Linked DNA regions of Homo sapiens. The protein of the gene in region 1 interacts with the protein of each later gene in a pairwise test. Each region holds a gene or a part of one and is shown in the gene's direction. Other genes may lie near its edges. The genes, in order: RAB2B, TXNDC11, GARIN4, HIP1, FAM114A1, VRTN and FAM114A2.

Region 1 (3,500 bases):
GAGTTAGTATACTGGAATTCTCTTCTCACCTACAAACCCCAGTTTAGGTTATATGATATAGTGGCTAAGAGGACAAGTTTTTGTCCTAGGAAGTACTAAGATCCTAAGTTTAAATTATGGCTCTAGCACTTAATAAGCTTTATGATTTGGGGCCGTTTATTAAACTTGTGTGAGCCTCATTTTCCCCATTTTTAAAAGGAAATAATAAGCCAGGCACGGTGGCTCATGCCTGTAATCCCAGCACTTTGGGAGGCCGAGGCGGGTGGGTCATGAGGTCAGGAGTTCAAGACCAGCCTAGCCAACATAGTGAAAACCCATCTCTACCAAAAATACAAAAAAATTAGCCAGGCATGGTGGTGGGCGCCTGTAATCCCAGCTAATTGGGAGGCTGAAGCAAGGAGAATTGCTTGAACCTGGGAGGCGGAGGTTGCAGTGAGCCAAGATTGCGCCACTGCACTCCAGCCCGGGCAACAGAGCGAGACTCCCTCTCAAAAAAAAAAAGAAAAAAAAAAAGGGAATAATAATATCGGCCCCAGGGTTGCTAAGAGAAGTAAATGAAATAATATATGTAATTGTCTCTTAAAGTTCGTAGCACATTTTATATGCCAAAAAGTAGTTTATAGTACTATTGCAGTGTTATAATTAGTGTTACCACTGTTACTGGTATTATACTATGAGAAAGCCATTTATTTTCCCACATCCTTAATCATGATTCTCCCATTTGTAACCTATAAATTATAGTCTTACCTCCTGTTATGTAGGGATGTAAGGATAAATTATTTCAAGAATGTGAAAACTTTCTTAATAGGATAGATTCAATGTACAGGGTATTCATATTATTTAAAAAATGTTTTTGTTTTCCCTAAAGGAAAAAAAAAGAACTAGTCCATCAAGAAAGCAAAAGTACCCAGTATTATGGGGGCATTAATAAATTACTCAGTTTTAAATAGAACTTAATATCTTTGTCCAACTGGAAATGAGATTAGAGTGTGAACATTTGGATTTTTCTAGGAAAACTCTATGCTGGGCCCTGGGCTTCTTTCTCTGTTTGTTATTCCTATTTCCCATGACAGAAGCCCAGCAAGGGACATCTAGGTAGTCTTGCATTATCAGTGGAACACTAAAGGTCAGTTAGAAGATAATCAGTTGAAGTGCTTTTAATCTAATTTTTATATTGATTCATTGGAATGAAATTTCTATTAGACCAGGTTTTGGCATTCTAAGATAACTTTCCTTTTTACAGATAAAGAAATGGGAACAGAAAGATTAATATGGTGTGTTCAATATCATATTTGGGATTGAAAAAAATGACATACACTCCGTTTCCAGTCCTATTTCCAGTTGTTCTTTTATGAGGATATTGGGAAATGTATGCAAATGTCTTCATCGTCTTTATCGTGCTGACTGGGGTGCCACAGGTATTTAGTGACTGGGATCTAGGATGCTAAACATCCACTAATCTGATGGACAGTCTCTCAGGAAGAGTAAGTGACTGCCCAAAATATCAATGCACTCCCATAGAAAAATATTGATTTCCCACTTGGGTTTCTTCTCGGGCAGGCATGTTTTCTTTCCCTAATTCTCTTTTCGTAATAGAAATTCTTTTTTTAGTTAAGTCCTTTGTATTAGGGTGGCATGTGATCAAGTCGGTTCTGTGGAAATAACCTGGTTTTGTTGGGATTTTTTGTTGCCATGTTGGTGGGAAAGGCTGGGCAAGAATCCTTCCGTTCTATCACCCGTTCCTACTACAGGGGAGCAGCTGGAGCACTGCTGGTGTACGACATTACAAGGTGAGCCAGATCTGGTGCATGGGAGGGAGATTCTTCCCTAAATCCTCTAAAGCTTTTTTTTTTTTTCTATCTACTGATTCTGTTAAGGATGTTAACTAGGAATGGCCTCTCTAATATTTTTCTTTACACGTATGGCTTCCCCTCTTTTCGTATACGCTTGGAGTTGTTTTGGCCTTTTGAAATGTGTCTCTGACCCACATTCTAAATTTTTCTGCTGTAGGCGTGAAACCTTCAACCACCTGACCTCATGGTTAGAGGATGCCCGGCAGCACTCTAGTTCCAACATGGTTATCATGCTCATTGGGAATAAGAGGTAAAATTGTATCCATGTGAATAATAGTTAACAGGAGTCATCTAGGTACTCTATGCACATTGATCCCCAAACTTTCTCAGTTTATAGTGGTCTTAGTGTTTCAGTAAAAAAAAAAAATTTTGTTGTGATAAAATATATATGACACAAAATTTACCATTTTAACTATTTTTAAGCATACAGTCCTGTAGCATTAAGAATATCCATTGTTCCACAGCCATCACCAACATCCATCTCCAGAACTTTTTCATCTTCTCAAACTCTATACACATTCAACACTAACTCTCCATCTTCCCTCCCCCATCCCCCTCATCCCTCAGCCCCTGACAGCCATCATTCTACTTTATGAATTTGACTACTACTGGTACCTCATACAAGTAGACTCATGTAATATTTGTGCTTTTGTGACTGGCTTATTTCACTTAGCATAATGTCTTCGAGGTTTATCCATATTGTAGCATGTGTCAGAATTTCCTTCCTTTTTAAAGATGAGTAATATTCATTGTATGCATATACCACAATATTTTGTTTATCCATCTGTCCATGGACACTTGGGTTGCTGCCATCCTTTGACTATTGTGAATAATGCTGCTATGAACATGGATCTGTTCAAGTCCCAGCTCTGAATTCTTTTGGGTATATGCCCAGAAGTGGGATTGCTGGATCATATGGTAATTCTTTTATTTTTTGAAGAACCACCATACCATTTTCCATAGCAGCTGTCTCATTTTACATTCTTTCCAGCAATGTACAAGGATTCCAGTTTCTCTACATCCTTAACAACACTGGTTATTATCAGTAAATTTTTTTTGACACCCATAGGCCAAAAGAAATACCTAATAGTTTTGTTAAATAGTTATACCCAAACAACATGAGTATTTTTTATAACCGCTTAGTAACTGTTTGAAAATAAAAAGGCCAGGCGCAGTGGCGTATGCCTGTAATCCCAGCTCTGGAAGGATTGCTTGAGTCCATAAGTTCAAGACCAGCCTGGGCAACATAGTGAGACCTTGTTTATACAAAAAAATTTTTAAATGAGGTGGGAGGATCACTTGGGCCTGTGAGGTCGAGGCTGCAATGAAGCTGTAATTGTACCACTGCACTCCTGCCTCAGCAACAGGAGTGAGACCCTATATAAAAAAAAGAAAAAATATGCCAGGCGTGGTGGCTCAAGCCCGTAATCCTAGCACTTTGGGAGGCCGAGGTGGGTAGATTAGAAAGTCAGGAGTTCAAGACCAGCCTGGCCAATATGGTGAAACCCCGTCTGTACTGAAAAAATACAAAAAGTAGCCAGGCGTGGTGGCACGCACCTCTAGTCCCAGCTATTTGGGAGCTTGAGGCAGGAGAATTGCTTGAACTCGGGAGGCGGAGGTTGCAGTGAGCTGAGATAGTGCCACTGC
Region 2 (2,638 bases), on another chromosome or scaffold:
GCCACGATGTGTTTTCAGTTGTTGTGGGGTTTTTTGGTTTTCTGTTTTTGAGACAAGGTCTGACTCTGTTGCCCAGGCTGGAGTGCAGTGGTGCAATTACGGCTCACTGCAGTCTTGAACTCCTGGACTCAAGTGATCCTCCCACCTCAGGCTCCTAAGTAGCTGGATCTACAGGTGTGTGCCACCTTGCCTGGCTAATTTTTTTATCTTACTTTTTATACAGATGAGGCCTTACTATATTGTCCAGGCTGGTCTCAAACTCCTGGCCTCAAGCGATCCTCCCACCTCAGCCTCCCAAAGCACTGGGATTACAGGCACACAGCACCACACCCAGCTTTGTCATTTGAATGGCTGGGCCCCACTTGAAGAAAGCTTATATGTTAAGAAAACTAAGCTTTAAAGGAGGGGATGGTTGAATGTTTACCCCAAAATTATAAAACAATTTACGGCCGGGTCCAGTGGCCCTGGGCAGCCAGGCTCTGGAGTCCCTGCTGTTGACTTCCATTCTGTTAACACCTGAGGGAGACAAACTCGGCTGCCGGCCCACCTCATACCTAAGTGCATAAAGCTGGTAGTTTTGATCAATTGCAGCCAGGCTGTACAGGCACAGGTAAATAGATATGTGAGAGAAACATCATCAGACGATTAAATGACAAGTTCTGAAGAGGAATTTTCTAGATCTCTAGATCAGGACCTGGAACAAAGCTGTAGGGAAAACCCCTTTCTATGTCACCTTCCTTCCTTATTCTGTGCTCTCAGGGCTGGGCAGCCTGAATTCATAGTCCTTTGGTTGGGCTGTTTGCCAGTTATCAGGTTGCCAGGTGTGAGCCAGATGTACCTGGGGAATGGGGGTACAGTCACCCCCAGTTGAGAACCCCTGCCTTAGAGAATGTGTAATAAATGCTTGCTGAAGAAACAGACTGGGTATCTTTCAAGTTCTTCCTTTTTCTCCGGGCACTGTCAGTGGGCACAAGAGGGACATAGGTGGGACACTCCTGCCTCCCCTGGACGCTCTTCCTGACACAGCCGCTGGGCATCTCCGAGCACACAGAGGCCCCATGCCTACACACTCCTGGGGCCCTGCATCACTGGCTTTAGGCCTGGGCCTAGGAGCTCTTGTCTTTCTTGGAGGGTGTGGGTGAAGCTGAGCTCTGGCTTCAGGAACAGATAAGCCATCTTAATTACAGAACGAGCATATGGGACAGCCTCAGCTTTGTAGAGAATTTCTTGCCCAGGCAACATTTTCCTTACTTTCAGTAAGTAAAATCCACGGAACGTCTTTTCTTGGTGAGAAGTAGATGGCCTGGCCTCAGGTACAGCCTGCTTTTGGACTCATTGTGTTGGTGTGACTCCTGTCTTTGCTTCCTTTCCCTCTCTCTCCAGAAAGGACCTAAGTGTGAAATACCCCGAAGACGTCCCCATCACCCTTCCAAACCTGTTGAGGTTCATTTTGCATCACTCAGACCCTGCTTCCAGCCCCCAGAATGTGGCTAACTCTCCTACCAAGGAGTGTCTTCAGAGCGAGGCAGTCTTACAGCGGGGGCACATCTCCCACTTGGAGAGAGAGATCCAGAAACTGAGAGCAGAAATAAGCAGCCTCCAGCGAGCACAAGTGCAGGTGGAGTCCCAGCTCTCCAGTGCCCGCAGAGATGAGCACCGGCTGCGGCAGCAGCAGCGGGCCCTGGAAGAGCAGCACAGCCTGCTCCACGCACACAGTGAGCAGCTGCAGGCCCTCTATGAGCAGAAGACACGTGAGCTGCAGGAGCTGGCCCGCAAGCTGCAGGAGCTGGCCGATGCCTCAGAAAACCTCCTTACCGAGAACACGTGGCTCAAGATCCTGGTGGCGACCATGGAGAGGAAACTGGAGGGCAGGGATGGAGCTGAAAGCCTGGCGGCCCAGAGAGAGGTCCACCCCAAGCAGCCTGAGCCCTCAGCCACCCCCCAGCTCCCTGGCAGCTCCCCTCCACCTGCCAATGTCAGCGCCACACTGGTGTCTGAAAGGAATAAGGAGAACAGGACAGACTAACTTTTTAAATGATATGAAGAAATCAGAGGTGAAAATTGTACATTGGGAATATATTTATGCAAATTTTATTGAAATTTATTGTAAATAAAGATTTTCTCAGTGGTCTAGAAAATCAGCTTGAATGTCATTCAGCATTTATTGAAGAAGGATGACATCCCTTCCACTTATTGCACAAACTTGGTAGCTTTGAGACAAATACAGTAGCACAGTCCGTTTGAAGATTTGTCCAAAAAATTAGTCCATATTTTAGTGGCTCAGTGTCAAGAGTTCCCTCCCTGTGCCCCCACTGTTGCTTCTGCAGTGATACGAAGGATGAATGCTTAATTTCTTATTAGTCAGAAAACTTGAATGCAACAGTTGGGCATTCAAAAATAATCCAGAGAGGTCATAACCTACTTAGCCATTTGAGTGTGGCTCTGGTGTCTGCTAAAAAAAGTAGCTATTGAAAAAACAGTGAGAGCTATGATGTGGTTCACTCATTCTAGAAGCATTTTCATTTTCCTCCCGAAAACCCCCCCAGTGCCTCACCGAGCCCCGGACCTTCACCCAACACGGCTGCCACGCTCAAATGGGCCTGATTCAAACTCCCAGGTACGTCCCTGGCACCAGGGA
Region 3 (3,951 bases), on another chromosome or scaffold:
GCTGGGAGAAAAGAGAGTTGGAAGCAGGTGCTCCTTTTCAGGACTTCCAGGTAACAGCTTGGAAATTACTTATTCCTGGGCTCGCTCTGTGGGCATGGCAAGGCAGGAGGTATAGTAGCACCTGTTCCCCATGGATGTAAATGGCTTCCAAAGTACTTCTGCATAGTAGAGAGGTTAGTAGAGGAGGGCCTTTGATAGGCTCCTGGAATGTAAGCTCACACTTTCCATCCTACCCTCTTCTCCCGGCATTTCACAGGGTAGGGGGTAAGAAGAGGCACGGGGCAAACACTGGGGGCCTTGAGAAAATATTTGGGCTCCCTGACACAGGATGTTGGTATAAACATGATGGAGGAGAAATAGAGGTGGCCCCTTGGATAATTTAATCCCCCACTCAGCCCAGCCCCTTTCTGAAGTGGTTGTCCTGGATTCTCCATAACATGCATGCATACACACACACACACACACACACACACACAGAATTAATTATGCAACTTATTTGGCTTGCCCAAGCTTTTTTTGTAAGTTCTGTAGTGGTTCAGAAGGAAGATTTTAAAAGCAGCAAGACCTGTATTCAAATAATACCTCCACTGCCTACGAGTTCTACAAATGCAGGTATGTTTCACAACTTCAGGTTTTTTTTACCTGTAAGATGAGAAGCGTTGCAATAGTATCAAACTGGAATGGAGTTTGATACATAGTATGGCGCCTAGAAGAAGCAATCTCTCATGTTATTATTAAAGGTTGAGGTTATTACTAAAGATTTCCATTGTCAGCATGAACTGAGATTTTATGGAAGAGTGGGCTAAGAACCAAGACTGCGAATTCTAGGTTAAAAAAAAATTTAAACCGTGTACTCAAATGGTTCAAATTTATCCCATCATCTTGCGTTCCTGTAGACTCTGCCTAGTTGCTGAATCTTTTGAATTTGGGGTGAGGAAGGGGAAGCAACCACACATTTTCTCATTTGAAAAATTTTTATTTTGGCACCCACTTGAGTACCTGGCACGGTGGGGCTGTCCTCTATGGGGGCAATGGAGTATTAGTGAGGGCATTGTGGCCCTGGCCTGGGGGATGAGAACAAAGGGGTATGTGACAGCAACAGGTCACAAAGGGAAGCAGAAGATAAATATGGCTGCACAGGGGGTTTAGGCAGAGAGGGTCGTCACTTCCTGTCACTAGGACTACAGTTTGTAGTCTCTCTCAGGGAGAGAGACTACAAACTGTAATTAAAAAAATCAGAGGTGGAGGTCAGGGGGTTAGGTCCAGAAGAAAACCTCTCTGGAGCCCACCCTGCATCTCTACGTCTTGGAAGAGTCTGGAGTCCAGGCACCCTACAGCACCCCCCACAGCAATCATCCGTGCTCCCACCCCCACCCCGGCCTCTGGGAGGCTCTGAGGCAACAGTGGGGGCCTGTGGGGTGGGGTGGGATTGAGAGACCAGCTGCAGAGACATCTTTGTGACCCAGGAGCACCACTGGTCCCTCATCTGCCACCGAGGCCAAGGAAGACCCAGAGACCTGCCTCACCAGTGCTGCCGTTGTGCTGAAAGACAACCATGAATGCTGATTTTCTGCTGCCGTATTATACGGCCCAGAGTGGCTCCAGCATGAGCATGTTCAACACCACCATGGGGAAACTGCAGCGACAACTGTACAAGGGGGAGTACGATATATTCAAGTATGCACCGATATTTGAGAGCGACTTTATCCAGATCACCAAAAGGGGAGAAGTGATTGATGTGCACAACCGTGTCCGTATGGTGACCATGGGCATTGCACGTACCAGCCCCATCCTCCCACTCCCAGATGTCATGCTACTGGCACGACCGGCCACCGGCTGCGAAGAGTATGCTGGACATGGCCAGGCCACCAAGAGAAAAAAACGCAAGGCAGCAAAGAACTTAGAGCTCACCAGGCTTCTGCCCCTGAGGTTTGTACGGATCTCTGTTCAAGACCATGAGAAACAACAGCTGCGCCTGAAGTTCGCCACTGGCAGATCTTGCTATCTGCAATTGTGTCCCGCTCTTGACACACGGGATGACCTCTTTGCCTATTGGGAAAAACTAATTTACCTCTTGCGGCCACCCATGGAGAGTAACAGCAGTACCTGTGGCATTCCAGCTGAAGACATGATGTGGATGCCTGTGTTTCAGGAAGACAGGAGGAGCCTGGGAGCCGTGAACCTTCAAGGAAAGGGGGATCAGGACCAGGTCAGCATCCAAAGCCTCCACATGGTCTCTGAGGTGTGTGGGGCCACCTCTGCTGCTTATGCTGGAGGGGAGGGACTCCAAAATGACTTTAACAAACCCACTAATGTGCTCAATGCATCCATCCCCAAAACATCTACAGAACTTGCTGAGGAGCCAGCAACAGGGGGGATTAAAGAGGCAGCAGCAGCAGGGGCAGCTGCAGGGGCAGCAACAGGCACCGTAGCAGGTGCCTTGAGTGTGGCAGCAGCCAATTCTGCCCCTGGACAGGTGAGCGCAGCCATAGCTGGGGCGGCCACCATCGGTGCAGGAGGAAACAAAGGCAACATGGCCCTTGCAGGCACTGCCAGCATGGCTCCAAACAGCACGAAGGTGGCTGTGGCAGGGGCTGCAGGCAAGTCCTCAGAGCATGTTTCCAGCGCATCCATGAGCCTTTCCCGAGAGGGCAGTGTGAGCCTGGCCATTGCAGGAGTAGTACTGACCAGCAGGACAGCTGCAGAAGCAGACATGGATGCAGCAGCGGGACCTCCCGTCTCCACCCGGCAGAGCAAGAGCAGCCTGAGTGGACAGCATGGAAGGGAGCGAACCCAGGCCAGCGCTGAAGGCTGCAAGGAGGGGAGGGAAAGAAGGGAAAAGGACAGGGCTCTCGGAAGGAGTTCCCATCGCCGCAGGACAGGTGAAAGCCGCCACAAAACAAGGGGAGACAAGATTGCCCAAAAGTCCTCCAGCAGGTCCTCATTCAGCCACAGAGCCAATAGAGATGACAAAAAGGAGAAAGGCTGTGGCAACCCGGGGAGCAGCAGGCACAGGGACTCGCATAAAGGTGTCAGCCACACGCCCATCTCAAAGGAGTCCAGGACCTCTCACAAATCTGGGAGGAGCTTATGGACCACCAGTTCCGGTTCCAGCAAGGGACTTGGCAGGGTCAGCTCTTTCCTGAGGAACGTCAGAGCCAACCTTACTACAAAAGTAGTGGGCACACCACATGGCAGAGATGTGAACGTCATGGCTAAGATGGCGGAGAGGAGCACCAACGTGGCCATCGCCGAGACAGCAGAGGGTGGCCAGGGGCTGGAGACGGTTGGTTCTATGACACCGGACATCATGGAGACAGTGACCTTTGAAGCCCATTAAATAAGACCCAGAGCTGGAAGCTGCAAAGGAGCCCAGAGCTCATGGGAGTGTCCCTGGAAAGCCTATTCCAGCGTTCTTTACTGCCGTTTAAATAAAGAATCATACATCTGAAAGTGGCTTGCTGGCTGAATTTTTGTGTCCCACAGCCCAGCAGTGACCTCACAGTGGATTCTGTGATGTCAACTGTGCTGCAGCCTGAGACCCCAGGATCCAGTCAAGGGTAGCCCCACCTCACACCCATGCTCAGCAGAGCCCAGATGAGTGCTCCAGCTTTCCTCAACCCCTTCCTGGCTTTGGTTCGCCAGGACTATGGCTGAAAGTCAGGCTGGGAGCTTGAAGCTCTACCTCCACCATCTCCCCATCCTTTTTATAAACTTGCCCCCTCCCAACCCTGGAAAATCCAAAGACGAAGCAAGAACAGAACTCTCACCCCCTTGCACTATTCATAGGAGGGAGTAAGGGAGCAGCAGCATGTGTTGGCAACCAGAACAGGGAGGAGCATTGTCTAGACTTAGCAATTCCACCCCTAAGTATACTCCCAAGAAACACACATGTTGCAGGAGACAGCCATGAGAATGTTTGTAGCAAAATAATACTGGAAACTGCCTAAA
Region 4 (3,500 bases), on another chromosome or scaffold:
ACAAAGGCTTTCCAAGGATGAGGCTGGTGGAGAGTTTGAGGAAAGGAAAACACATGGGTGGCAGAGAGAGAGGGATGAGCGTTTTTTTTTGTTTGTTTGTTTTGTTTGTTTGTTTTTTGAGACGGCAGTAATCCCAGGACTTTGGGAGGCTGAGGGGGGTGTGGATCACCAAGTCAGGAGTTCGAGACCAGCCTGGCCAATATGGTGAAACCCCATCTCTACTAAAAATACAAAAGTTAGCCAGGTGTGATGGCGTGTGCCCGTAGTCCCAGCTGCTTGGGAGGCTGAGGCACAAGAATCTCTTGAACCTTGGAGGTGGAGGTTGCAGTGAGCTGAGACTGCACCACTGCACTCCAGCCTGGGCAACAACAGCGAGACTCCGTCTCAAAAATAAATAAATAAATAAATAAATAAATAAATAATAAAAAATCCTTCCTTGACATTCCACATTTTCAGTACACTCTGGGGTCTTGCCTCCTCCTCCCACACCCTGCACTTTTTTGGGGGGGTGTAACTTACATACAGTAGAGTTTACAGATCTCTTGTTGATCGCTTGGGACGTTTTTACATTTTTATATTCTTTGTCACTGTCACCCAGATCAGAGTCCCTCTGTTTTTCTTCTCTTTCAGACTCAAGAACAGCTGGAAGTTCTAGAGAGCTTGAAGCAGGAACTTGCCACAAGCCAACGGGAGCTTCAGGTTCTGCAAGGCAGCCTGGAAACTTCTGCCCAGGTAAATACCTCCTTTTTTTTTTTGGAGATAGAGTCTTCTTCTGTCACTCAGGTTGGAATGCAGTGGTGCGATCGCAGCTCACTGCAGCCTCCACCTCCCTGGGCTCAGGTGATCCTCCCCACTTAGCCCCCCGAGTAACTGGGACTACAGGCACACACCCCTACACCTGGCTAGTTTTTGTATTTTCTTTGGTAGAGACGGGGTTTCACTATGTTGCCCAGGCTGGTCTCGAACTCCAGGGCTCAAGTGATCCTCCCACCTCAGCCTCCTAAAGTGCTGGGATTACAGACATGAGCCTTCATGCCCGGCCTCCTTTCTTGCCCCACCCCTGGCTTTGGCGTTGCTGTCATCCACCATCCTTGGCCTGGCCAAGTCAGCCCCCACTGCAATCAGTGTGTCCCCGGGAGGGAATCAGAGTGGCAGGTTAAAGAGCCATCACCTTCCCAGTCCTTGCAACCCGGTGGTGGGTTGGACCTCTGGGAAGTAGGGACTGTTTAACTCAACCAGCGTCTCCCTCTTTCCTTGTGGTCACCTTTGCAGTCAGAAGCAAACTGGGCAGCCGAGTTCGCCGAGCTAGAGAAGGAGCGGGACAGCCTGGTGAGTGGCGCAGCTCATAGGGAGGAGGAATTATCTGCTCTTCGGAAAGAACTGCAGGACACTCAGCTCAAACTGGCCAGCACAGAGGCAAGTCACGGACATGGACACGAGCGAGCACCTGTGAATTCCCACCGAGGGCCTCTGCGCATGCACGGAGGCTGGGAGGACCCCGGGGCTGCTGAGAAGGGGTTTGGGGCCTTGGCCTGATTGTGCAGACATTCTGTAGGTGTAATGCCAGCAGGCCCTGCATTGCCTGCAGAGTCCATGAGGGAAAGCAAACTGCTGTCTTTTTTGTATGAGAAGAGAAGTTTGGCATCTCCTCCCAGCCATGAGAAGCGGGCGCAGTGATCCATCCCCACAGCCTCTGTGGGCAGCCGCACATCGTGGGCAGCCGCACATCCTGTGCACACAGTTAAAGCGCCTTTCTCTGTCTCAGGCTTACTGGCTTGGACCTCATTGGCCATGACTTGAGCTAAGATGCTAAGAGCCCCAGCCAGGTCATCCTGCTCAGGTTCATTATGGAGTCTAGGGCAGACTCTCACCTCCCTGGACCATTTTTAGGAATCTATGTGCCAGCTTGCCAAAGACCAACGAAAAATGCTTCTGGTGGGGTCCAGGAAGGCTGCGGAGCAGGTGATACAAGACGCCCTGAACCAGCTTGAAGAACCTCCTCTCATCAGCTGCGCTGGGTCTGCAGGTACACTTGCAATTGCCCAGCTGGCAGGGGCCAGGTCCTTACAGCCTGAGACTCTGTTGATGTTGAATCTCATGTGAGACTTAGCTCAGGGGCTCTCAGCCCAGCAGCATGTCAGCATTACCTTAGGGGCGCCCAGGCCCCATCCTAGATCAGTTACATGTGGAAACTCTGTGCATTAGTGCCTATACACTAGTATTTTAGTATTTTCTTCCCCCCCCCCGCCCCCCCGCTTTTTGAGATAGGGTCTTACTCTGTTGCTCAGGCTAGAGTGCAGTGCCGTGGCTCACTGCAACCTCCGCTTCCTGGGCTCACACAATCCTCCCCACTCATTCTCCCAAGTAGCTGGGACTACAGGCACGCAACACCACGCCCAGCTAATTTTTGGTTTCGGTTTGTTGCTCAGACTGGTCTTGAAGACCTGGGCTCAGGCTATCCACCCACCTTGGCCTCCCAAAGTGCTGGGATTACAGGCATGAGCCACCATGCCTGGCCTTGGCTAATTTTTTAATTTTTGGTAGAGACGAGGTCTCACTCTATTGCCCAGGATGGTCCCAAACTTCTGAACTCCCACCTTGGCCTCTCAAAGTGCTGGAATTACAGGCATGAGACACCACGCCAGGCCCAGCAGTAGTATTTTCTAAAGCCCCCAGGTGTGATAGCTACTGCTTTAGACAGTGGGTCACACTGATAAAACACCCACCAGGAGCAGACAATTCTGTTTCTCTAAGGAAAAAACTATGGTCTGAATCAAGAGGTGATTACTCATGAACTTCACGTCTAGGCAGGAAGCTTACCCACTAGGTAAGCTCCTCCATTCAGTGCTTAATTAACGAGGATGAAGCCAGCTATGAGAACTTGCTCTGACCTTGCCCTGTGTTCCCTCTCACAGATCACCTCCTCTCCACGGTCACATCCATTTCCAGCTGCATCGAGCAACTGGAGAAAAGCTGGAGCCAGTATCTGGCCTGCCCAGAAGGTAAGAATGGCCAAGGACAGTCTCTGTCGGCTAGTGATGGCCAGACAGGGTTCAGAAGCACCTGAATGCGGGGATAGTGACAGGTCCCTCTGCATCAAGAAAGGCATGTAGGCAACTCATACAAGAAAGGCATGTAGGCAACTCATAAAACGGGAGGAGAGGGTATGAAAGTGTCACCATCAACCAGACCTGAGAAACTTCTCTTTCCAATCCTGGCAGACATCAGTGGACTTCTCCATTCCATAACCCTGCTGGCCCACTTGACCAGCGACGCCATTGCTCATGGTGCCACCACCTGCCTCAGAGCCCCACCTGAGCCTGCCGACTGTGAGTACCGGGGCATGAGGGGCTGTTCATGGACCAGGGGAGCAGGGGGCCTTTAAAAGTCTCTGTTGGGCCGGGCGCAGTGGCTCATGCCTGTAACTCCAGCACTTTGGGAGGCTGAGGCGGGCAGATCACTTGAGGTCGGGAGTTCAAGAACAGCCTGGCCAACATGGC
Region 5 (3,500 bases), on another chromosome or scaffold:
TATATTCTTGAGAGGGTGAAAGCGTGGTAAATGACAGCTCTGAGTTATTGGGAAAATCTATGTGTGAGATGGTGTCTCATTATGGTTTTTATTTGCATTTCTCTAATGATTAGTGGTGGTGTGCATTTTTTCATATGCTTGTTGGCCACCTATATGTTTTCTTTTGAGAAGTACCTATTTATGTCATTTGCCCATTTTTTAATGGTTTTTGTTTTGTTTTTTGCTTGTTGATTTAAGTTCCTTACAGATTCTGGATATTAGACCTTTGTCACATGCATAGTTGCAAATATTTTCTGCCATTATGTAAGTTGTCTATTTATTCTGTTGGTAGTTTCTTTTGCTGTGTAGAAGCTCTTTTGTTTAATTAGCTCCCACTTGTCAATTTTTGTTTTTGCTGCAATTGCTTTTGGAGTCTTTGTCATGAAATCTTTGCCAGGGCCGATATCCAGGATAGTGTTTCCTATGTTCCTAGGTTTTCTTCTAGAGTTTTTATAGTTTTGGGTTTTACATTTAAGTCTTTAGTCCATCTTGAGTTTATTTTTGTATATGGTATAAGGAAGGGGAACAGTTTCAATCTTCTGCATATGGCTGGCCAGTTATCCCAGCACAATTTATTGAATAGGGAGTCCGTTCCCCATTGTTTGTCATTGTTGGCTTTGTCAAAGATCAGATGGTTTAGGTGTGTGGCTTTATTTCAGAGTTCTCTATTCTGTTCTGTTGGCTTATGTGTTTTATTTTTGTGCCAGTACCATGGTGTTTTGGTTACTATAACCTTGTAGTATAGTTTGAAGTTGGGTAGTGTGATGTCTCCAGCTTTGTTCTTTTTGCTTAGGAATGCTTTGTCTATTTGGGCCCTTTTTTGGTTCCACATGAATTTTAGAATATTTTTTTCTAATTCTATGAAAAACATCATTGGTAGTTTGATAAGAATAGCATTGAATCTGTACATTGCTTTGGGTAGTATGGCCATTTTAACAATAATGATTCTTCCTATCCATGAGCATGGAAAATTTTTCCATTTGTGTCATCTCTGATTTCTTTGAGCATTGTTTTGTAATTCTCATTGTGGAGCTCTTTCATCTCCCTGATTAGCTGTATTCCTACGTATTTTGTTCTTTTTGTGGCTATTGTGAATGGAATTGCATTCTTGATTTCACCGTCAGCTTGGACATTATTGGTGTATAGAAATGCTACTGATTTTTGTACATTGATTTTGTATCTTGAAACTTTGCTGAAGTTGTTTATCAGATCTAGGAGCCTTTGGGCAGAGACTATGGGATTTTCTAGGTGTAGAATCATATCATCTGCAAAGATAGTTTGTCTTCCTCTCTTCCTATTTTATTTCGTTCTCTTGTCTGATTGCTCTGGCTAGGACTTCCACTATTGTGTTGAATAGAAGTAGTAAGAGTGGGTATCCTCGTCTTGTTCTGGTTCCTAAGGGGAATGCTTCCAGTTTTTGCCCCTTCGGTATGATGTTAGCTGTGGGTTTGTCATAAAAGGCTCTTATTACTTTGAGATATGTTCCTTCAATGCTTAGTTTGTTGAGACAGAACATTTTTATCACCACCGAAAGTTCCATTGAATAGTGCTGTTCTACATGATATCAATAATTTGTAAGCTTTAAAAGAGTTTTCTGCTTTAATGGCTACATTCCTTATTTGGTTTCTACCTCACTTCTTACCCTTTAAGTTTATCCTTGACTAAACCATGGTCTAGACCTTCATCAGCTGGTCCCCAACAAGGAATACTGTGTGTGTATAGGTCTCTTTCTCACTGTGAATTTCTGACAAAGATGTTACAAAGCTAAATGGCAAGTATTTTTTTTGATAAGTGCTCAGGTATTTTCTAGACTTATTCTTTTTTCTTTTTTTTTTTTTTTTTTTTGAGACGGTCTCGCTTTGTCGCCCAGGCTGGAGTGCAGTGACACGATCTCAGCTCACTGCAACCTCCACCCCCCAGGTTCAAGCAATTATTGTGCCTCAGCCTCCTAAGTAGCTGGGACTACAGGTGCATGCCACCATGCCCAGCTAATTTTTGTATTTTTAGTAGAGACAGGGTTTCACCATGTTGGCCTTGGCTGGTCTTGAACTCCTGGCCTCATGTGATTCACCCACCTCAGCCTACCAAAGTGCTGGGATTACAGGTGTGAGCCATTGCACCCTGCCTTCCTATGCTTATTCTCATTATTGCTACAAATATAATTAATAAAGCCAGAGTCAATAATTTTAAAGATACAGGTATTACTCTTAGTTCCCATAGGCGTAGTCTTTCATGCCAAGTAAGAGCTCCAGGAAAGTTTAAAGATAGCCCTGTAGGTTTCTGTTAGCTTCCTATCAGTGCTGTGACAAATTACAACTAACTTCACGGCTTTTGCCAACACAGACTTATTCTCTTGGAGTTCTGGAGGTCAGAAGTCTGAAATCAGTGTCCATGGGCTAAAGTCAAGTTGCTGGCAGCCTGATTCCTTCTAGAGTCTTTGAGGGGAGAGTGGTTTCTTTTCCCTTTTCAGCTTCTGGTGGCCACCCATATTCCTTGGCTTTGGGCCCCTTCCTTTATCTTTGAAGTGCGTCACTCCAGCCTCTGCTTCTGTCATCACATCACCTTTTCCTCTTTGTAATCAAATCTCCCTCTGCCTCCATATGATAAGGACACTTGTGATTACATTTAAGGCCAACTCAGATGATCTAAAATAATCCCCTCATCTCAAGATCCTTATCTTACTCACATCTGCAAGGTCCCTTTTGTTATGTAAGGTAACACTCACAGGTTCCAGGAATTGGGATGTGGTTATCTTGGGGGCCATTCATTATTCCAGCAGTCCCCAACCTTTTTGGCACCAGGAACTAGTTTTGTGGAAGACAATTTTCCCACAGATCAGCAGAAAGGGGTGCGGGGGAGATGCTTTTGGGATGATTCAAGCACATTACTATTGTGCACTTTATTTCTATTATTATTACGTTGTAATTTATAATGAAATAATTATACAACTCACCACAAGGTAGAATCAGTGGGAGCCCTGAGCTTGTTTCCCTGCAACTAGATGCTCCCACCTGGGGATGATGGGAGACAGATCATCAGGCATTAGATTCTCATAAGGAGTGCACAGCCTAGATCCCTCACACGTGCAGTTCACAATAGGGTTCATGCTCCTATGAGAATCTAATGCCACCACTGATCTGATAGGAGGCGGAGTTCAGGTGGTAATGCGAGCGATGGGGAGCAGCTGTAAATACAGAGGAAGCTGTGCTCACTCACCTGCCACTCACCCACTGCTGTGCAGCTTGGTTCCTAACAGGCCATGGACTGGTACAAGGAATAATGCAGGGTTGGGGACCCACAAGGTTACATAGAGTATTGGTTAAAAAAAAGTTTGCCCTGGCCGGGCGCGGTGGCTCACGCCTGTAATCCCAGCACTTCGGGAGGCCAAGGTGGGTGGATCACCTGAGGTCGGGAGTTCGAGACCAGCCTGACCAACATGGAAAAACCCCGTTTCTACTAAA
Region 6 (3,500 bases), about 53 Mb from region 1:
GTCTCTACTAAAATTACAAAAATTAGCTGGGCATGGTGGCATGCGCCTGTAATCCCAGCTACTCGGGTGGCTGAGGCAGGCAAATCTCTTGAACCCGGGAGGTAGAGGTTGCAGCCAGTTGAGATTGCGCCCCTGCACTCCAGCCTGGGTGACAGAACGAGACTCAGTCTCAAAAAAAAAAAAAAAAAAAATTGTCACCACTGATCTCATCAGAAAAATTGAGATTTTCAGATGGAAGCTGATAAGTTTTTATGGGCAGCAAATAGTTGTTTCCCTTGAAATTACAGTCTCACTTCATTCATTTTTGAGAAAATATCTGCCAAATATATCCAAATCTGAATGACCAGTGTCTATTAGACTTTCTTTCAAGTAAAAATTGTATATCATGCTAAAGGGAGCTAATTTATCAGAAAAGCAGAACAATCATCCAATGGAGACATTCATCATACCTCGGGTTGCAGCAAGCGTGTTATAAGTATGCCCCATTTGATTACACCCAGTATTGAAAACGACATGTACTTAAGGATAACGGTTTTCTTTCTTTTCTTTAAAAAAAAAATAGCATCATTTATTTATTTATTTGAGACAGAGTCTCGGTCTGTCACCCATGCTTGAGCACAGTGGCATGATCTCTACTCAGTGCGGCCTCCACCTCCCAAGTTCAAGTGATTCTCGTGCCTCAGCCTCCTGAGTAGCTGAGATTACAGGTGCATTCCACCATGCCTGGCTAACTTTTTTTTTTGTATTTTTAGTAGCAATGGGGTTTCACTATGTTGGCCAGGCTGGCCTCAAACTCCTGACCTTAAGTGATCTGCCTGCCTCAGCCTCCCAAAGTGCATGAGCCACTGCACCTGGCCTCTCTCTTTTTTTTTTTTTCTGAGACAGAGTCTCATTCCTGTCACCCTGGCTGGAGTGCAGTGGTGCGAGCATTGCTCACTGCAGCCTCGGATTCCCAGGCTCAGATGATCCTCCTGCCTCAGCCTCCCAAGTAGCCGGGACTATAGGCACATGCCACTGTGCCCAGCTAATTTTTGTATTTTTTGTAGAGATGGGGTTTTGCCATGTTGCTCAGGCTGGTCTTGAACTCCTGGACTCAAGCAGTCCACCCACCTCAGCCTCCCAAAGTGCTAAGATTACAGGCATGAGCCACCACGCCCAGCCAACATCTCTTTATTGTCTCATTTATGCCCAGAACAACTCAAGCATATTTTATTAATTTTTTTTTCCCTTTTGGAGACAGTCTCACTTTGTTGCCCAGGCTGGAGTGCAGTGGCTCTAACTCAGCTCACTGCAACCTCTGCCTCCTGGGTTTAAGTGATTCTTCTGCCCTAGCCTCCAGAGTAGCTGGGATTACAGGCTCTTGCCACTATGCCTGGCAAATTTTTGTATTTTTAGTAGAGATGGGGTTTCACCATGTTGGCCAGGCTGGTCTCGAACTCCTGCCCTCAAGTGATTCATCTGCCTTGGCCTCCCAAAGTGCTAGGATTACAGGTGTAAGCCACCGTGCCTGGCCTATAAAGCAGATTTTAACACACCATTCCCATTTTATAGAAAATGAACAGAAGCATAGAGAGGTTAAGTGATCCAAGGTGACCAAGCTTATGTCAGAGCCAGGATTCAAAGCCAGGTTCTAGAGACCACACTTTTCCTCAGTACCATTCAGTGATGAACCAATCCCGTCTGTTGTGGGAGGACGGGAGCAGATAGACATTACCTTTTGGGAGAAAGTGCAGGAGTGGACAGGGCACCTTTGCTAGTCATCATCTGGGCACTTCGACCTGACTACTGCCCCTTTATCTTTTGCCCTGGCAGGATGACTTCTCGGAACCAGCTGGTGCAGAAGGTGCTGCAGGAGCTGCAGGAAGCAGTGGAGTGCGAAGGCCTGGAGGGTCTCATAGGTGCTTCCTTGGAGGCCAAGCAGGTCCTGTCTTCCTTCACTCTCCCCACCTGCCGGGAGGGAGGCCCTGGCCTCCAGGTGCTGGAAGTGGACTCGGTGGCCCTGAGCCTGTATCCAGAAGATGCTCCACGGAACATGCTGCCGCTGGTGTGCAAGGGGGAGGGCAGCCTGCTGTTCGAGGCGGCCAGCATGCTGCTGTGGGGTGACGCAGGCCTCAGCCTGGAGCTGCGGGCCCGCACCGTGGTAGAGATGCTGCTGCACAGACACTACTACCTCCAGGGCATGATCGACTCCAAAGTGATGCTGCAGGCCGTGCGCTACTCCCTATGCTCTGAGGAGTCCCCTGAGATGACCAGCTTGCCCCCCGCCACGCTGGAGGCCATCTTCGATGCCGACGTCAAGGCCTCCTGTTTCCCCAGCAGCTTCTCCAACGTGTGGCACTTGTATGCTCTCGCCTCTGTCCTCCAGCGGAACATCTACTCCATCTACCCCATGCGCAACCTCAAGATCCGGCCCTACTTCAACCGTGTCATCCGGCCCCGCCGCTGCGACCACGTGCCCTCCACGCTGCACATCATGTGGGCTGGCCAGCCCCTCACCAGCCACTTCTTCCGCCACCAGTACTTTGCCCCTGTGGTGGGGCTGGAAGAGGTGGAGGCTGAAGGTGCCCCTGGCGTGGCCCCAGCTCTTCCAGCCCTGGCCCCACTCTCATCGCCGGCCAAGACCCTGGAGCTGCTCAACCGTGAACCTGGCCTCAGCTACTCTCACCTCTGTGAGCGCTACAGCGTCACCAAAAGCACCTTCTACCGCTGGCGGCGGCAGTCCCAGGAGCACCGGCAGAAGGTTGCTGCCCGCTTCTCCGCCAAGCACTTCCTGCAGGACAGCTTCCACCGGGGGGGCGTCGTGCCACTTCAGCAGTTCCTCCAGCGGTTCCCGGAGATCTCCCGCTCAACCTACTATGCCTGGAAGCATGAGCTGCTGGGCTCTGGCACCTGCCCGGCCTTGCCCCCCAGGGAGGTGCTGGGCATGGAGGAGCTAGAGAAGCTGCCGGAGGAGCAGGTGGCTGAGGAGGAGCTGGAGTGCTCCGCACTGGCGGTGTCAAGCCCTGGAATGGTCTTAATGCAGCGGGCCAAGTTGTACCTGGAGCATTGCATCTCCCTGAACACACTGGTACCCTATCGCTGCTTCAAACGCAGGTTCCCTGGCATCTCACGGTCCACTTATTATAATTGGCGGCGAAAGGCCCTCCGGAGGAACCCCAGCTTCAAGCCGGCACCAGCCCTCTCTGCTGCTGGGACTCCCCAGCTAGCATCTGTTGGGGAAGGGGCTGTAATTCCTTGGAAGAGTGAGGCGGAAGAGGGGGCAGGGAATGCCACAGGTGAGGACCCTCCCGCCCCCGGGGAGCTCCTGCCACTAAGGATGCCCCTGTCCCGTTGGCAGAGGCGTCTGCGCAGGGCTGCCCGCAGGCAGGTGCTGAGTGGGCATCTCCCTTTCTGCCGCTTCCGCCTCCGCTACCCCAGCCTGTCACCTTCTGCCTTTTGGGTCTGGAAGAGTCTTGCTCGGGGTTGGCCCAGAGGCCTGTCCAAACTTCAGGTGCCGGTCC
Region 7 (3,500 bases), on another chromosome or scaffold:
CAGATCTCCCCACCATCTTGTGTCCTCTCCCAGTTTTCTGTGTCTTCTGCTCTCCCCCTCTCCTGCACCAAGATAACCATAATCCTGACTTCCACCATCATAGGTTAATTTTGCCTGCATTTCAGCTTTACATAAGTGGAATCATATATAGTATCTAACTTCTTTCATGCAACATTATATTTGTATAATTTACCTATGCTGCAGTTTGTGTGGTAGATTTGATTTTCTTTGTTGTATTTCATTGTGAAGCTTTGTCACGTTTTATTTATTCATTCCACAGTTGGTGAGCATTGGGGTAGTTTTCAGTTTGTAGCTATTACAAGCAGAGCTGTTATGAACATTTTTGTGCATGTCTTCTGATGAACCTCTGTACTTATTTCTGTTAGGATGTAACCATGAGTGGAATTTCTGGGTCATGCAGCTGGAGTAGATATTGACAAACAGTTTTCTAATGTGGTTATACCTATTTACGTTCCCACAAGCAGTGTGTGATTGTTTCATTTGCTTTACATTCTTGCCAGTGCTTGGTATTGTTAGCCACTATTTTTATATAATAAATACATAATAAAAATGCATAAAAATATGTTTTCTTAATATTGTTGTAATGAGGTTGCATGTATTTTCTAGGGAAAGAGTGTTATAAGTGGGGGTTTGGATGCCTTAGAATTCATTGGAAAAAAGACAATGGATGTGATAGCAGAAGGGGATCCTGGATTTAAAAGAACCAAGGGTCTGATGAACCGAAATGCTACACTATCTCAGGTACTGATTATCCTTACCTGTTTACTTCCTGTTTCTGTTTTGATCTGTATTTTTGCCTTTGTTTACTTGGAACCTTGTTAGTGTTTTCTTTTCAAGCATTTTCAATAATGTTTATTCAGGCGTTTTTTTGGGGGGATCAGGGATGGGTGAGAGCTCTACTGCTTACAAAAATACCCAGCTCTTTTTCTCCTCCTCTTTCTGCAGGAGCCTCCCATCAGTGCAGTGCAAAATGCTAAACCCTGTCAGGGTTTTTTGTTTGTTTGTTTGTTTGTTTTAATGTTTAAATCACTTTCAGAGAAACACCTGGTTCCTTGGGTGTGATTTGCACTGTCTAGGATCAAATTATGTGGTCAGGCACGGTGGCTCACGGCTGTAATACCAGCACTTTGGGAGGCCGAGGTAGGTGAATCAGTTGAGGTCAGGAGTACAAGATCAACCTGACCAACATGATGAAACCCCGTCTCTTCTAAAAATACCAAAATTAGCTGGACGTGGTGGCGTATGCCTATAATCCCAGCTACTTGGGAGGCTGAAACACGAGAATAGCTTAAACCCGAGAGGCAGAGGTTGCAGTGAGCAGAGATCGTGCCACTGCACTCCAGCCTGGGTGACAGAGTGAAACTCCGTCTCAAATTATGTGTGATCGTTTTTCTTTCTGCAGCTCCTGAGCCCACCAGATTTGAATAGCAGTGCCAAGAATGAAAGGGCAATCCTCTGTACTCTAACCTGTCTAAGCTTTGCTTCCTTCAATTCTCAGAACTCACCCTTGAGCTCTCATTGTTTGCTACAGTGTAATGCCTCCATCTCTTTTTAGGTTTTACGAGAGGCGAAGGAGAAAGAAGAGATACGGACCTCCAATGAGGTTACCGTGGAAACAGACAAGAAAACTCATTATGGGCTACTCTTTGATGAATTTCAAGGCCTTTCACATCTAGAAGCTCTGGAGATGCTTTCCCAAGAAAGTGAAATAAAGGTAATTCCAAGCCAAAATCTCAACTGGAAAAAGTCTTCAAGTAAAAGAATGCTGCATGGTTTCCTTTCTCTTTGTACATTTGGAAGATGAAGTGTATGTTTTGTTAGAGGCTTGAGATGCCTTCGAAATACTACCACAAAATAAATTTAAAAACTAATGTTTGATTGAACTAATTGCTAAAAGCAGAATTAGTCAAGTATTATTTCTTTAAATTTAAACAAAAAAGGTTAACAAAGAGGTCTTAATAGGACATGTGTTATTTTTCCTTCGTTTTGGTCTTTTTTTTTTTTTTTTAGTTTCTTTGGCCTAGGCTGCCAAGAAACCTGTTGACTTGAGCTGCCAATTTGTGTACAGTTACCTGTTAGCTTTTAATTGATTTAAGATTATCTAATTTTTTTGTTATTTCTAAGCTGTTGCTAAACACTGATAATTTCCAGGAATTTCTGGCTGGTATTACTTTTAGAAGCACAGAGTCTCCCTACCTTTCTGTCATAACCAGCCTCTTGTGTTAAGGTTCTTAAGGAATAACTTGTGCTGGCTGATGAGCTCATAATTTTGACTTCAATATGATCTTTTTATAGTCTCTTCCCTATTTGTGAATGTTTTTCTTTTCTTTCATACTCCTACAACATTTTGTTCTTGTATCCATTCAGGTGAAATCTATCCTTAATTCTCTGAGTGGAGAAGAATTAGAGACTCTAAAAGTTGAATTAGAGCAACTCAAAGAAACATTTTCTCTAGCAGAATTTTGTGAAGAAGAGGAAGAAGAGAAAAAAGGTAATATGAAAATTTAGTATCTGAGTGGAGAGGATGCAGTGTGTTTGTATGCAGTGCATTGCCCTTGAAATAAATTATTTACTCTTATTACACTGGCTTGATTTTACTTTTTTGGTGAAAATTTTTATGCAAATTCTCTGTGTAAAATTCTCTGCAGCCTTGCACCTGACTAGGCATTGATGGGGGCAGTTGGCCTTATGCCCATGTCTCCCTGCCTCCTTCCAACCAAACCCTTTGTGGCTTCTCAAGGTCTAATCTTGCAACTCACATCTTTGCCTATTTTTGCAGTTAGAAAGCTGTTCTCATCAGATTCTTGCCTCAGTTTGACTGGTCATTCATATGAGCTTTCATATTCCTAGGTACTTTACCTCTGCCTCTCTGACTCTTGTAACCCCTGATTCTGTCTTGAATTGAAGCATGCAGGATGGCAGTTATCTAAAATGTGGGTGATAGTTTGTCTTTTTTTATTTTGAAAACTCTTATACCATATTTTAATATCTTCATTTCTCAGAAAATGTAAATGTAGATACTATGTATATTTGCAAAATTATCAGGAAATGAGATGGGTCAGGAAATGAGATGGCTGACGTAAAGTATAATTGCCAGGCAACTGAATATTAAGTTCTAAGGGTTGTTTTATTGACATTTTAGCTGGAAATATTTCTAAGATATACACTAACTGACCTTTTTTTTTTAAAAAAGTGGAATCTAATGAATACAGTTTTGCCTTTTCTTCATGAAATAATCAGTTATAAACATTAAAAGTGAATGGAAAAATTCTCTCAGGTTTCATTAAGACATAGGGCCAATCACCCATGTAGTAGGTTAAATCAGTGATGAACAAAGTGTGGTCTGTAGACCCTTGAATTCCCAGAACCCTTTCAGGGAGTCTATGAGTCAGAACTCTGCATCATAATACTAAGATGTTGTCTACTTAGGAATTTTTTAAAAATTATAATGAGTTTTTTTTCTGCTTTGGCATTTGTGC

What was found.
Region 2: the proteins of RAB2B (region 1) and TXNDC11 interact in binary tests that used the Homo sapiens proteins (3 or more experiments, as listed by UniProt).
Region 3: the proteins of RAB2B (region 1) and GARIN4 interact in binary tests that used the Homo sapiens proteins (3 or more experiments, as listed by UniProt).
Region 4: the proteins of RAB2B (region 1) and HIP1 interact in binary tests that used the Homo sapiens proteins (3 or more experiments, as listed by UniProt).
Region 5: the proteins of RAB2B (region 1) and FAM114A1 interact in binary tests that used the Homo sapiens proteins (3 or more experiments, as listed by UniProt).
Region 6: the proteins of RAB2B (region 1) and VRTN interact in binary tests that used the Homo sapiens proteins (3 or more experiments, as listed by UniProt).
Region 7: the proteins of RAB2B (region 1) and FAM114A2 interact in binary tests that used the Homo sapiens proteins (3 or more experiments, as listed by UniProt).

What each region holds. Positions count from the first base shown.
Region 1 is NC_000014.9:21,466,960-21,470,459, reverse strand, and holds part of RAB2B (ras-related protein Rab-2B), read left to right. Parts: intron 1-1,243; exon of another isoform or gene 1,244-1,251; coding exon of another isoform or gene 1,252-1,274; intron 1,275-1,280; exon of another isoform or gene 1,281-1,367; coding exon of another isoform or gene 1,368-1,418; intron 1,419-1,707; coding exon 1,708-1,790; intron 1,791-2,010; coding exon 2,011-2,103; intron 2,104-3,500. UniProt on the Homo sapiens protein: The small GTPases Rab are key regulators of intracellular membrane trafficking, from the formation of transport vesicles to their fusion with membranes. Rabs cycle between active GTP-bound and inactive GDP-bound states.
Region 2 is NC_000016.10:11,678,583-11,681,220, reverse strand, and holds the end of TXNDC11 (thioredoxin domain-containing protein 11), read left to right. Parts: intron 1-1,383; coding exon 1,384-2,026; 3' UTR 2,027-2,138; downstream 2,139-2,638. UniProt on the Homo sapiens protein: May act as a redox regulator involved in DUOX proteins folding. The interaction with DUOX1 and DUOX2 suggest that it belongs to a multiprotein complex constituting the thyroid H(2)O(2) generating system.
Region 3 is NC_000001.11:212,623,323-212,627,273, forward strand, and holds GARIN4 (Golgi-associated RAB2 interactor protein 4), read left to right. Parts: upstream 1-1,151; 5' UTR 1,152-1,555; coding exon 1,556-3,340; 3' UTR 3,341-3,453; downstream 3,454-3,951. UniProt on the Homo sapiens protein: RAB2B effector protein required for the compacted Golgi morphology, probably through interaction with small GTPase RAB2B.
Region 4 is NC_000007.14:75,553,942-75,557,441, reverse strand, and holds part of HIP1 (huntingtin-interacting protein 1), read left to right. Parts: intron 1-630; coding exon 631-732; intron 733-1,272; coding exon 1,273-1,416; intron 1,417-1,890; coding exon 1,891-2,026; intron 2,027-2,915; coding exon 2,916-3,002; intron 3,003-3,221; coding exon 3,222-3,329; intron 3,330-3,500. UniProt on the Homo sapiens protein: Plays a role in clathrin-mediated endocytosis and trafficking. Involved in regulating AMPA receptor trafficking in the central nervous system in an NMDA-dependent manner. Regulates presynaptic nerve terminal activity.
Region 5 is NC_000004.12:38,874,306-38,877,805, forward strand, and holds part of FAM114A1 (protein NOXP20), read left to right. Parts: intron 1-3,500. UniProt on the Homo sapiens protein: May play a role in neuronal cell development.
Region 6 is NC_000014.9:74,354,971-74,358,470, forward strand, and holds part of VRTN (vertnin), read left to right. Parts: intron 1-1,812; 5' UTR 1,813-1,813; coding exon 1,814-3,500. UniProt on the Homo sapiens protein: Acts as a transcription factor that regulates development of thoracic vertebrae.
Region 7 is NC_000005.10:154,025,411-154,028,910, reverse strand, and holds part of FAM114A2 (protein FAM114A2), read left to right. Parts: intron 1-627; coding exon 628-762; intron 763-1,576; coding exon 1,577-1,735; intron 1,736-2,388; coding exon 2,389-2,512; intron 2,513-3,500.